Homo sapiens: one gene and its partner. The protein of the gene in region 2 purifies or fractionates together with the protein of the main gene of each other region. This does not show direct contact. Each region holds a gene or a part of one and is shown on either strand. Other genes may lie near its edges.

Evidence for each region.
Region 1: the proteins of VSTM2A (region 2) and ACAD8 purify together in Homo sapiens (affinity purification with mass spectrometry; 3 studies listed by BioGRID and IntAct, with this or other methods). This does not show direct contact.

What each region holds. Positions count from the first base shown.
Region 1 is NC_000011.10:134,256,565-134,263,591, reverse strand, and holds part of ACAD8 (isobutyryl-CoA dehydrogenase, mitochondrial), read right to left. Parts: coding exon 6,944-7,027; intron 6,505-6,943; coding exon 6,335-6,504; intron 5,078-6,334; coding exon 4,968-5,077; intron 4,585-4,967; coding exon 4,508-4,584; intron 3,985-4,507; coding exon 3,847-3,984; intron 3,564-3,846; coding exon of another isoform or gene 3,519-3,563; exon of another isoform or gene 3,428-3,518; intron 2,549-3,427; coding exon 2,413-2,548; intron 2,318-2,412; coding exon 2,220-2,317; intron 1,855-2,219; coding exon 1,702-1,854; intron 1,461-1,701; exon of another isoform or gene 1,316-1,460; intron 1,073-1,315; coding exon 970-1,072; intron 823-969; coding exon of another isoform or gene 713-822; exon of another isoform or gene 492-712; intron 257-491; coding exon of another isoform or gene 96-256; exon of another isoform or gene 1-95.
Region 2 is NC_000007.14:54,545,371-54,552,397, reverse strand, and holds part of VSTM2A (V-set and transmembrane domain-containing protein 2A isoform 2 precursor), read right to left. Parts: intron 6,238-7,027; exon of another isoform or gene 6,182-6,237; intron 5,452-6,181; coding exon 5,401-5,451; intron 2,565-5,400; coding exon 2,228-2,564; coding exon of another isoform or gene 2,127-2,227; exon of another isoform or gene 1-2,126. UniProt on the Homo sapiens protein: Plays a role in the regulation of the early stage of white and brown preadipocyte cell differentiation. Promotes adipogenic commitment of preadipocytes by increasing gene expression of the transcription factor PPARG in a BMP4-dependent signaling pathway.

The sequences.
Region 1 (7,027 bases), on a different chromosome or scaffold from region 2:
TGGAATGAGGTTTGCAGAAGAAAGCAGCGGTCTAACCTGTGGTAGCCTGTGACTCTGACATTAACACCAGAGCGGTGGGTCTCAAAGTGTGGTTCTCAGACAAGCTGTGGCAGCCTCACTTGAAGACTTGTTGCAGATACAAATTCCCAGGCCCACACTAGACCCTCTGGAGCAGAAGCTCTGGGGTTGAGGCCCGCAATCTGCGCTCCCATGCCCTCCAGGCGATTCCAGCACAGGCTGAGGTTTGAGAAGGGTGCTGTGAAAGGGGCAGGGAAGCCCCATTATATAATGTTTCCAGCAAGGCAGCCTCACGTTGCTTCACCGAAGTCACTCAAAGAAGCCTCTGCCCCTCCTGCTTTTCCAAGAGTCGTGTCATTTCAAGACTTCCGCACTGGCTGTAGAGAGTGGAGACAGCCAGGCTCCGAGCCCGACCCCAACGGCTTCCATGTTTCCTCGATAGAATGTCTGTGACTACCAAGAAGATACCCATATAGTGATGGTTTATTTTATTGAAAAATACACTAGTAATATTGAGACAGGTATCTTTTAGGCCATCTGGCTGATAATCAATATAGAGCTACTGATGACCATACTGGCTCACATTTGCCTTGTCCATCACTGTTCTTGGATCCCTGAGAACCACGTACTCGATAACCTTAGAGAAAAGCCCCGGCTGTGGTTTTCAACATGCTTTCTCATCCATTATCTCAGTTCACCCTTCTCGCAGATCTCCAGAGGAAAAGGGCAGCAGCAGAGCGATCTGAGGCCCCCCGAAAGGGACGAAGCTGCGGCTCTGGACTCCAGGCCCCTGCCAGAACAGCTCTGCGGAACGGGAGGGAGGAGGAAGCCTCGAGACAGACAGGGCTTGACTGCACCCTGAGGCCCAGGAGGCATGGGGACAGAGAGTGGGGAAAGCAGCGATCCCGCCCCCGTTCTGAAGGGAAGAGAATAACCTCTGGCAATTTTTACCTTCTAGAATCTGGTGGACCCTGGAGTCCCGCACGTACTGCTGAACAGCGTAATCCTTCAGGTAGCCGTAGCCCCCGTGCATCTGCAAGGCCTGGTTGCAGATCTGCAGGGAGACAGGGACTAGACGTCTTGGACTCTGGGAAGACTGTGGAGCAAGCAGCTTCCCTTCCTACCCCAGCCCACGATCTGGCAGCCCGCCATAAACCCATGAAAGAACCACAAACAGCCAAGCTCAAAGAGGGCCTCCACATTCTGTATGGTTAGAGACAAGGGAAGTTCACCTACTAAACTTGTCAGTTCCCCCCAGACAGGCGACTCAAAGCCCTCTGCCCCTCTCCCTTATTACCTGCCAGGCAGAAGCTGCCCACAGCCACCCTGGCTGGGATGATAAAAAGCTATGGTTCCCCCTAGTGGCAATGCAGCCTGACAATGTAAACATGGCAGAGTGCTAAATTGGGGCTGCTGTGAACCTTCCAAAGGTGGTTTCTCGCCTAGAACACAACCAAACAACAGTGACATAATGAAGTGTATAATGGCATGCAGCAGGCCTAAAAGCCAGCGATGAGAGCTCCCACATAGGCCGCTCATGAGTTCATTTATATCCTTAAGCTTAAGGTGATCCTTGTGGGATTCCAGGAGGGCTGGGTTCCAAATCTGACTCATGTCTCTCAAGACCCCTGGGCCTAGCAGCTGTTCCCTGTCCATCCCAGGAGAGCCAGAGGAATCACTTACGGCAAAGCATTCATCTGTAGCAAAGAGCTTGGCCATGGAGCACAAGGCCACTGCATCCTTCCTCTCCTCCTGCAGAGCCACTGCTGCATTGCGGACCATCAGCCGCGCGGCCACCAGCCTTGTTGCCATATCAGCCAGTGTGAATTGCAAGTACTGCAGCACAGGGAGCAGAGAACCAGACAAGACTGAGGGGCTTAGACCAGCACCTGGTGCAGGAGCCTCGGTAAGACATCTCGGAGGCGCCTTTTCTAAGTGATCCAAAGCTTCAAAGTCTCTTGCTTTTTCTATAGAGGAAATTTATTGCTTTTAAGTGCTAAGTCCACTTCACTCACCCGACACTTTAATATCGTTAAAGATATCCCAAGAAAAGATGGACAGAAATAAAGCACAAGCTCTGGCTAGGACAGTGGTGGGACTGACAGAGGAATTTCCTGGCTTCTCTCCTGGAAATGTGGGCCCTAGAGCAGGTCCCGGGCTGCAAATAGTGCAAAGCCATGTGGAGGCAAGGCAGAGGTTACCTGGTTACTGGCCAGAGGCTCTCCAAACTGCTTCCGGACATTGAGGTGGTCTCGGGTGAGGATGACAGAGGCGTGGGCAGCCCCCAGGGAGCAGGAAGCTAGAGGGGAAGAGCGCCGACGTTCCAACCAAGCTGGAAAACAGCAGTGCCTGTCCCGGACCGCTACCTCCCTGCCACACCCCTGCGTATCTCACCAATATTGATCCTCCCTCCGTTCAGTCCTCTCACGGCAATGAGGAAGCCCTGCCCCTCGCTCCCAATTCTGTTGGCCACAGGGACAGCACAGTCTTCGAAGATCACAGCTCGTGTTGGCTGGGAGTTCCACCCCACCTGGCAAAAATCAGGGACTGCGTGGTTGCCCAACAATCCAGCAGGTAGGGCGGCCTTCCCTGGGGACGGGAGCCTGTGAGGTATGGGTTTCAGCACCCAAGACTTAGACCCACAAGAACTTAAAATGAGGAAAAAGAAAAAGTTCAGGTTTAAAGGCCTGTCAGCACTCAGAAAGATACCTGTTTCAGCTAAACATTTTCTAACTTATTAAGAGAATCTACTAATGTCTACTCTACCTGACTAACCTACAAACACTTCTCACAACTTCTTTTAGGATTGTGACACCAACTGCCCCCAATTTCAGTGCCTCTAATTGAAAACCACAAACTATCTACAATCTCCCAGTTCCTCTCTGGCTCTGAAAATAGACTGCCTTTACATCATTTCCTTGCTCTCTTTTGTTGATAGGATAAACTCCATTTCTAAGCCTTTTACTGAAGGTCTTCCTGCCCAGGAGTTAGCATGGGCTTCACACACAGTAGAAGCCTAGGAAATGGTTGCTGTGTTACCAAAGAGAAGGGGATGCTAAAATGCATAATGCCTTACAGTTACAGAGGATCAGGAAGGATCCTGTAGGAAAATACAGAAACCCGAGGAGCTGTGAGAAAGAGGTACACTTAGGGGTCATTTCATTACCTGCCTTCTCTCACAAAGTCCCCCCATAACAGTACAAACTAGAGAGAGATGACTGCTTTGAGCATCTGGTCTAAAAAATCTGAATGGGTCTTGAGCCCTTATTACCAATTACGGTTACATGATCACAAGTCTCCTGTTCATGCCCTGGCCATGGCGGCTCTTAATCCTAGAAGTATCTTACTTTTCAAATTACTTACAGTACCTAAGTGTCCTTCTTGGGTTGCTGAAATACCCACAATCATCTCCAATGAGTTTTACTTTATTTTTAATCAAAGAAGCAAAAGGGACCACACGCCTTCCATTACTGAGACTTGTGGCCAACACCAGGTCTTCTCTAAGCGTCTCTTCCTGGAGCAACAAAGTGCACCAACGTAAGCAGCTGGATAAGGAACACAGGCCAAAAGCAGAGGCAGGAGAGGTCAGAACACTCACAGGTGGCTTGAAGAATTTACTGGCAAACATTGTCACTTTCCCCAGAGGCCTAGTGTTTAATAATGCCCTGTTGTATTTCATATGCTCCTGTTGAAAATCCTAATAGAAGCAACTGCTTCAAAGGTAGGTTAGCAAGTATGCAAACCTGTTTTCTGAAATAGAGCAGGAGTTGGGCTGGCAGGTGGCAGAGTCTCATAACCTGAATTGTTTCCTGTCCAACAGCCACTCACCTTTTTCTCCTTCTTGCCAAAGCTGAGGCCAGGGGTCCCCTTCTCAACAACTATGCATGAGATGCCCTTGGGGCCTGGTCCTCCTGTTCGGCACATGACCACATAGATGTCTGACTCACCAGCACCACTGATGAAGGCCTGTGGGGGTAAAAGGGGTGCAAAAGGACCAGGGAATGCTTGAGTTCTCACAGCGTCTGGGAACACCACTGGGTCCTCCTGACAATAAGGTCCAATGGCACAGAGACTGACAATAAGGTCCAATGGCACAGAGACTGACAATAAGGTCCAATGGCACAGAGACTGACAATAAGGTCCAATGGCACAGAGACTGACAATAAGGTCCAATGGCACAGAGACTGACAATAAGGTCCAATGGCACAGAGACTGAGGTGAGGTAAAAGGTCGCTGCAGTGACTGCAGATCAGAGAGGCAGTCCAAGAGAGTATAAAAAGGATAGACAAAAGTCAACGAAATGATCTGGAATCAGATTAGGAGAGATACAAACAGTGAGAATAAAGAAAGAGAAATGGGTCAGAGGTTCTCTTCCCAACACATAAAAATCCTATGGGAGTATTAACCCGCGGATGTGAAGGAACCAGAGGATGTCAGGAGGAAGCTGGGAACAATCTCCAAAGTGCTCTGGGAGGACGCACGCTAGTACCTTGGAGCCATTGAGGATGTAATGATCTCCCTGTTTCTTAGCGGAGGTCAGAAGAGAGGCAGCATCACTCCCACTTCCTGAGGAGGGATCAAAAGGCAGCAGAGAGAAGGTGAGAAAGTCAGTGAGGTCGAGGGAGCCCAGCACAATTCTATCTTCTAGGAAATCTTCTCTAAACAGACCCTGCTCAGAGTGTGTCACTGCAAAACCCAAGTGGCCAAAGGAACTCTCTGTACTTGGTGGAAACTGCTCATACCAGTCAGGCCACTGCCTACCTCCCAACACACCAGATAGGCTTCTTGGTCCTTGTGACATCAGGTCACAGGACTCTATTACTCCTCAACCAAACAGCTAGATAAACAGTGGCTCGACATGTCAAGAGGCTGGAAGGAGTGCTCGGTAATGCCATCTGAGCAGGAAGCATCTCTCCCTGCTATATCTCAGTGCAGTGTGGCAAATTCACCTGGTTCAGTGAGGCAGTAGGAAGCAAACTTCTCCATGGTACAGAGCGGTGGGCAAAATTTGTGCCTCTGTTCCTCATTTCCGAAGCTATCAATCATCCAGGCACACATGCTGATAGGTACACCAAGAAGAAAAGACAATGACAGAAATAAAGATGGAAAAGAAAAAAAAATGGGGGAGAAGGGGAAAGAGAACAAAGGGCAGGGCAGTGGAGTAAAGCAGAAGAGTGGGAAGGGGAGAGTCACAATTGGGAAGACTCTTTAAAGGCAAACGGTGGATTAAAACATATTCCTGGAATAAGGACTACCCAGAGATAACCAGGCTGAGGTACTTCTCACCAGCACGTTTGTACTACTTCTAGTTAGGTTACACGAGCCTCTAAAAATCAGAGTTATATGTGCTTTCTATTAGTAGTTTCTATTACTTCCTCAAATCACTGGCAGTTCCATCTTTGGATTGAGGAAAAGGGTGAGAGGGGCCGGGTGCGGTGGCTCACATCTGTAATCCCAGCACTATGGGAGGCCGAGGCAGGCAGAACACAAGGTCAGGAGTTTGAGACCAGCCTGACTAACATGGTGAAACCCCATCTCTACTAAATATGAAAAAAAATTAGCCAGGTGTGGTGGCACGTGCCTGTAATCCCAGCTACTCAGGAGGCTGAGGCAGGAGAATCACTTGAACCGGGGAGACGGAGGTTGCAGTGAGCCGAGGTCATGCCACTGCACCCTAGCCTGGGCAACAGAGCGAGACTCTGTCTTAAAAATAAATAAATAAATAAAAGGGTGAGAGGACCCTGATCACTCTATTGGAGAAGTCTCCTGGTACCAGCTCAAAATAAGATTTCTGAGAAAGCTGGCTGACCTGATTCCCTAAGCAATACACAGGATGACAGAATCAAGTCCAACAGGCAGCAACAGACCTAGCGTGTACTTATTTTATTTATTTATTTTTTTTGAGATGGAGTCTCGCTCTGTCGCCCAGGCTGGAGTGCAGTGGTCCATCTCGGCTCACTGCAAGCTCCGCCTCCCGGGTTCACACCATCCTCCTGCCTCAGCCTCCCGAGTAGCTGGGACTACAGGCGCCAGCCACCACACCCGGCTAATTTTTTGTATTTTTAGCAGGGACGGGGTTTCACCACGTTGGCCAGGCTGGTCTCAAACTCCTGACCTCGTGATCTGCCTGCCTTGGCCTCCCAAAGTGCTGGGATTACAGGCACGAGCCACTGCGCCCGGCCCCTAGAGTGTACTTTTAAGTCCAGTTCCTTGAGGACACTCAGCTTCAAAAGATCAATCTTTTTCCTACGAATCTGAACTCTCACAGTCAGCCCGAGTGAGCACTTCATTGTGCCTTCCAAGCTTGGGCACTCACTTGTGGATGCTTATATAGGCTGTGGTGCTGGTGCAGCCTGTAGCCAAGGCTTCAAAAATGACAGAGGTATCAAGACGTGACAGCCCAGACCCGCCCACATCTGTTTGTATGTAGACCCCTCCGAAGCCTAGCTGGGCTGCCTTCCGCATCACATCCACTGGGAACAGCTCCTATGTACAAAAGAGAGCAGGGTGATCAGCAGCTGATTCAGAGACGGCCTTCCTTTTAGAGGGCACAGTGAGGGATTAGGAGGCTTGCACATGCGACAGCGTATGAATTCTCTTAATATGCCTGTTTGTCATCTTACAGTGGTTATCAGTTAACATGGGTCCTGTAAAAACTTGTTCTGGCATTAAGAAGTTTCTTTTTATTATCTATAGAACTGCCTTAGTTTTATATCCAAATCTTTATTCAACTAACAAAAAAAAAGTTATGTACAAGATGATCAGGATGCCTTCTAGGAAAAATCATCCACTACCGGTATTCTCACTTGCAGTAAGAGTTGGTAAGTGGAGGAGACATTTAACAATTACATTATCAGGAGACAAAGATAAAGGTCTGCCTGAGACATCTGTTGTTAGAACGTCTAAGCACAAGAAAAACGCCTACCTTCTGGTCCCACTCTGCCATATTTGGAGCCATCTCTCGGGCAGCAAAGTCAAAGGCCACTTTTTGAAATTCTTTCTGCTCTTC
Region 2 (7,027 bases):
AGTATAGGAACTTACACATAAGTAAAGTGAGTGACTGGACTGCCCCAGCTTCTGAAATCGAAATTAGAAAATGTTGATAGAAGTATATAAAAATATTATCCAGTATTCACTGGTTGGAAATATTGAAATTAAATATTTTCAGATATTTCAAGTTACTCTTTGATATAAGCAGATATGTTTAGTGAACAGGACTTTTAATGAATATAGACTTCATGAGTCACTTTTTTCTCTCCTTCTACCTTTAACTCTAGAAAAAGCAATTTTGAATCTGACAGCAAGGCTGGCAATGGGATGCAAAAAGAGCAGTAATTTTTATTTGATAATTGTTAGAAGAGATCTAGAGTTTATCATTTAGCACTAATCACAGCGCTAAGAGATATTAAAATAAAATAAATAGATATTTTGAGATTGCATTATTAAACCCCAAAAGCTAAGAAAACATTCTAGAAATAGATAAAGCATTTCATTCTACCCTTGGAATTCTTCACTTGGAATAGGTAATCTGTTTGATTTTATTCTGCCGAACAGATTGATGACATCTAACTTGGAACAGTCTATGTAGGATAATAATAATTTCACTTCCATGATTTGGAGTTCTTGCTAATTAGGTTGTAAATTGTCTGCTTAGGCTACTCTGTAATCTTGCCTGTAGTGTCTAACTTCTTTTATGATAATGTGAAGAAAGAGGGGAAAATCACTCCAAAGACATTAAATCTTCCTCAAATAATAGTCACAAAGTTGTAACCATCATTTGGTTACCATTACAATTTAGCATATACCTGTGTGTTTAGTGTGTATGGATACACACATATATGTTCCAGCTATACTAGTTTGTCCTTTAATTTGGTAAGCAGAAAAGATTATAAAGAAAAAAATTAGACAAATCCACACACATTGGGCTTCAGAGAGGCTAAGCCATCTGTTCATCAGACTGACATAAATTGCAATGACCAAGGCATGCCAGGAGAGTTGCTCATCTACATTATAAGGCAGGGCAAACTCAGAGAACCCTAATCCAAGTGCCCTACAAATCTGCAAATCACATCCATTAGGAAGTAAAGCATTAAGAGAAAACCTATTTTGGCATACAGTATTTTAAAAACATTTAAAAGCATTGTTCACAAGCAAGGACTTAAAGATACATACCTATATGTATTTCTACATGTATATATATATTTGATATATATAAAGTCTATATTTGATTAGGATGATTTCTGAGATGTGTGTGTGTGTGCGTGTGTGTGTGTGTGTGTGTGTATTCAGGACGATATGAGATGAGATCTCAGAAATCATCCTGGTGAAGTAATCAGACTTTTTAATTTAATGGCTGAAGAGACCTTAAATATTAGCAATGTAATTTTCCATTACTGATGGTAGCATCAATACTTCTTTAGGGAAAAACCTAAAGAAGGATAAAGTCAGTATGTTTGTGCTCCCTTCATCCCATGTCACGTGTTTGAGGAAATCGGGACGGCCGCGGGGTTGTGCAGGGTACTGCTCATTCCACGAAGCCTTTATCCCACATCAAGGTTAAAACTTCCACGCATTTCCATTGGCTGAATGACTGCATACATTAATGCCATTCAGAACAGCTTTAACTTGCACAGCTGCCTTCAGAATCCTGTGACTAAGCTTCTAAATTGGCCTGGAAGGCAAATTCACAGAGGAGTTGCCTTATCTCTGCACCACTTACAGTCTTCAATCCCCCCTCCATCCTTCCATTATCATCATCACAGGCAGCTGAGGTTTCTCCTTCAAAATCAAAAGCCCTTGGAGAATAGTCCTGCTTAGAGCTATGGGTCGCTGAAAATGCATGATATGGCATGTCTCTCTCATTTACATTTTGATTAAGTGAAAGCCTCTTAATTTGGGTCATTATCGATACATAAATCTGTAGAGAAAATGAACATGCATTTGTAATGTAACCAACATTACATGATTTATTGTTCTTATAATGTGTAAATACAGAAAGGATAAAAACCAGAGTCCAGCTCTCAGATGCCCTGGAAATGAAGCACCACTAGGGGACTGACGGGGTGCACCCACATGCTTTGAGCTCTGAGTGAATTGGTGCAGGCTCGGTGCTCACCTCTCATAATCACTTGCACTGAACTAGGTCTCCGATTTTAAAAATCACCATTCATAAATCTGTCTACTCTATACGACTGACCTTTCTGTGGAGCGTTTGTGAGTGGTAAAATAAAAGGCTCGAAATGGGTTTCCATACCTGATTGTGGACTTTGTTTGGGGATTTTGGCTACCACTTGAGGGCTGGAGGTGGAGTGCGTTCGTTGGTTGGCAGAGCCATGGATGCTGCTGGGGATGGCTGCGGAGACGTTCTTGCGGGGCTTCATATCCTGCAGCCACATGGGCGAGGCTTCGAAGGCCTGCATTCTGCGGGCATGGCTGTTGGCATTGACTTTCAGATAGGCCTGGGCCTTGTGTTCCTGAAGCTCCCCGTAGTTGGCATCAGTCACCCTGCACTCATATAAGCCTTCATCCTTTTTCCTCACTTTGGAAATCTGAAGCTTGTGGGAGATGTCATTGCCTTGGACTTTCACTGTCTGAAAAATTGCAGGTAAAAAAAACAATAAAGTGCTACATCAAATGATTTTGTTCCATTTTTTACCCTGAGCTTGCTAATATTGGAAAGTTAAAGGGTCTTAATGGCCCCATAGCCATAGTGAAGGAGCTTTTTATTTCCTTAACGTCACATCTGAAGGCCTTGGCTATCCTATTCCACCAACCACTGCACTTGCAGACTCAGGAGATAATTAGTTCAATGCAGCCAGTGCCAGATTCTGTCAGCCACGTGCCCCCCATTGTCTACATGCCAGTAGCAGCTCCGTCATTTTTCCATCATGGGATTGGCCTCTGCCTGCTTAACTCAGTTCAATGAAGCACAAACCAATAAGGCCAACTCTATAGGTGAAACAACCTCTTTTCTTCCCTGTGGGCTATAAACTAAGCCCCTCAACTCTGAGACATCACAAAAATATTTTGTTGGTCATGAGTTTGAGTGAGAATGCACTTGTATCCCCACACTGGGATGACTACTAAAGGTGCTATTAATGAACTTGGATATTAATATTTTTCTTCTTAAATTTTAGATGCAGTCTTGCCTCTAGTCATAGGGTGGCATGGCTTGGGGTACAGCTTCATATCACCTGAAGTCTTGTTGCTCAAAGTATGTATCCCATGCCATTATAGGGACTTTATACTACAGGGACTTGGGATGCCATCGATAAAACACTGGCTTGATTTTCAAAATTGAAATTGGCTTATTTATTTCTTCTAATAAGTTTTATTCCAGATTAATAGCAAGATCATATATCTGATATATATATTAGATATATGATTTTATATTATATATCCTATATTATATATATAAGCATCTTTATCAGAACAGTTAGGTTTAATACATAATCATATGTTCTTCATAACTGAGACAATGATAGGGTTCATAAGACATTTGGGATTCAAGAATTTGGTTCATTTTGAAAGATACAGAAAAGAAATGAAGGAGGCCGAAAGTTATTTTTTCTGCTAATGGCCACTACACTTTCAAACGGCCATAAATTACTAGGAAAACCTGAGAAGCACTCATCTGCTTTTACATATAGAGGTATATATACAAATAATTTCCAACATTTGAACCCTATGGGTTTATGTGTATATAAAATTACATATAAATATACTAATACTATAAAAATGAAGTGAATACTTCCACATTTATTCTGGGTTAAATCTCCTAACAAAGTTTGAGGTAGCTAGAGTATTTATATTATTATCCCATTTTATAGTTGAGTAAACTGAGGCTTGGGGTGTTTGGGTCAGTGATTTTCAACACTGAGTGTACATTAGAATCACCTGGGGTGCTATTAAAAATACTGGCATGTGGAGTAATGCAGAAATATTAAGTCTGCATCTCTGGAAGGTGGAGCTTATATCATCAGTATTTTATAACAACTCTCCTGGGAATTCAAAGTTAATAACTAGTGGTTGAGAAAATATGTTCAAGGTCACACAGTGGGTAAACAGGGAACAAACTACTTTCTGCCTCAGTTTGTGTCTAAAACTCTCTTCTACTCATTAACTTTTATGCATTATTGGCATAGGTAATACTATCAACAGTTGTGTGTGTAATCATGTTTCTCAATGTATGCATCAGGGGTCAGGATGTATGAAGACTATTTTTGTTACTGGCCTTTAGATGATAGGGGGACGGGTGAAGGGTGAAGGAAGAATAGTCACCAAGCAATCTATCTAGTTATATATGTATGTGAAAAATAAAATAATTAAGAAAAAACTAGATTTTACCAATAAAGCTTTTCTAATATTGTAGGAAAACAACAGTTTCTGTGATATAAGAATAATTGAAGTATTCTAAAAAGTCAGTAATTTTATGAGTTTTAAATCAGAGTTTATGGTTGATATTTCATCTTTGTCATTTTTTCTTCCATGTTGAGATTACACATTTAGATCACAGAACTAGATTCTGTGTACAATATATTTGTACATTTTTAGTTATGATGTAACTCCAATCTTCTACCACTTTACGCTATTGTAAGAGCCTTAAAATACATTTTCTTTTAAAATGTAGGTCATTGGGATTTTAGATTTCTAAAAACAAATAATAACAATATGTTTATGCTTAACAGATTTCCTCCTTTTGTATTACATACCTATTTCGTTTCTATTTAAAAAATGAAGCAGTATTATTAATATTAACTGATGCTATGCGGCTCATTTGAGGTATAGTAAAAAAATAAGACTTTCACTTTTTAAATTTTACACACACTTATTAAAAGTAATAAGCAAGAGAGTGGAACTATAAGTTTACATTTTCAATAGGTCAAGCTCCTATAATAATGGTTTTACATTTATATTGGCTTTTGGCATTATATTTATATATTCTTAATAACAGCACTGGAAATACATTCCATGCATTAAAGTGACATTCAAAATTTAGTTGCTTAATTTCATCACAATTTCAGTATCCTGTTGGATGCTTTATATTTTTCTCCCTAAAAATATTTTCCTATGTTACTGTTTTACTTTCTACTAAAATATAATTGTTTCCATAATTTTGAATAGATATTAGCAATGTATTTACTCTTACTGTTAGGTAAGTTACAAAAAGCAAGGAAAGAAAGTGTCACACAACCTCTCTGGATAGCAAACGATTCTCTAGAATGTTTAGACATTTACGTGACTAAAATATGTAATTTTATTTAGGGACTCTAAATGTGCTTCCATTTGTATGTATCTAATGAGGCAAGCAAGGGGCACCCGGCTGTCCGGCTGTCCTGCAGCGCTGGCAAGCCGCCTTCTCGGGGACAGGGAAGGGCTGTGCGTCCCGAGCCTGGGCCCGCGGCCCTTGGCGCGCCCCGCACTCACGCTGATCTTGGTCCCGTCGCTGTCCGGGTCTCTGTCGGGCAAGAGCTCCACCTGCGGGCAAGGAGCGAACGCTCAGTCCCGCGCCAGGCCCGCCCGACCACCCGCTCCCACGCGAGCATAGCCTTCGCGGCTCCGGGCAGGGCCGTCAGGGTGACCTGGGGACAGGGGAGCGACCAGGGGCGTGGCCACCCCTGTCCAGGCCCAGACCGCACCGCCCCCACGCTGTCCCTGGCATACCCCACGCTGTCCCTGGCATACCCCACGCCGTCCCCGCGCTTTCCCCGGGGCTGTCCCGGGGCTGTCCCGGCGCTGTCCCGGCGCTGTCCCTGCCGCGCGGATGCTGCGCTCTGGAGGCGGGGCCGGGAGCCGCCGGGTCTTTTTCGCGGGTTGACCCGTGCGGACGCGCGCCCGGAGGTGGGTGGGCGGGCGGGCAGGCGGGGGGGCGCCAGGGGTGAGGCGGGCGGGCGCCAGGGGTGGGGCGGCCGGCGTGAGTGAAGGTGAAGTGCTCCGGGACGAATTTTCGCGCCTTTGTTCCGGCCACCATCCCGCCTGCCGTCCCGCCCCGCGCTCCTGGCCCCAGATTCTCTTGCTGGCTCGCAGGGGCGCCGCCTCTCGCTCAACTAGGTCTCCCTCGCCCGGACCCCCTTCCCCTCTCCCCTCCTCCCGCTATTTTCCTTTTCCTCATCTCCTCCTTTCTCCCTCTCCTTCCCCACCTCACCACCCTCTCTCCTGTCTCTTCCCAAGTCACCCTCCGTCCCCTCCACACTCCCCATTCCCCTACTTCCTTCTCTCCTCGCTTCCTCTCTTCTCTCCTTTTCCTTCCCTTCTCCACTCTCCTTCTCTCCTCTCCCTGCCTCTTCTCTACTCCTCTCTCCCTCTCTTCCTTTCCCTCCCTCTCCCTTCCCTCTCCCTCCGTCTCTCCTTTTCCTCTCCTTCCCTCTCTCCCTTCTGTGCCCTCTCTCCCCCATGTCTCTCCTGCTCCTTCTCTTCCTCCCCCCTTCCCCCCTCATTCTCTCTCCTCTCCCACCCCTTCCCCCTCATTCTCTCTGCTCTCCCACCCCCTTCCCCCCTCTTACCTCTCTCCCTCTCTCCCCATTCTTTCTCCCTCTACCCTTCTCCTTCTCTGCTTCCCACTCCAATTCTCCCTCTCTTCCTTCCCCCTCCCCTTCTCTCTGTCCCTCTCGCCCCCTCCCTCCTTTTCCCCTACCCTCTCTCCTTCTCTTCTCCTTTCTCTCTCCCTGCCCTCTCTTTCCCTTCCCTCTCTCCCTTTTTCCCCTTCCCTCTCTCTCTTTCCCTTCCCTCTCTCCCTTTTTCCCCCTTCCCTCTCTCTTTCCCCTTCACTGTCTCTTCCCGTCTCCCCCTTCCCTCTTTCCCAGCCCCTTCCCCCTCCCCGTCCCTCTCTCCCTCTCTCCCCCTTCTTTCTCCCTCTCCCCCTCTTCTTCTCCCCTCCCCACTCCAATTCTCCCTTCCCTCCTTCCCTTCTCTCTGTCCCTCTCCTCACTCCCTCTCTCCCTCTTTTCCCCTTCCCTCTCTCCTTCTCTTCTACCTTCTTTCTCCCTCCCTTCTCTTTCCCTTCCGTCTCTCCCCTTTTTCCCCCTTCCCTCTCTCCGTCTCTTTCTCCTTCTCT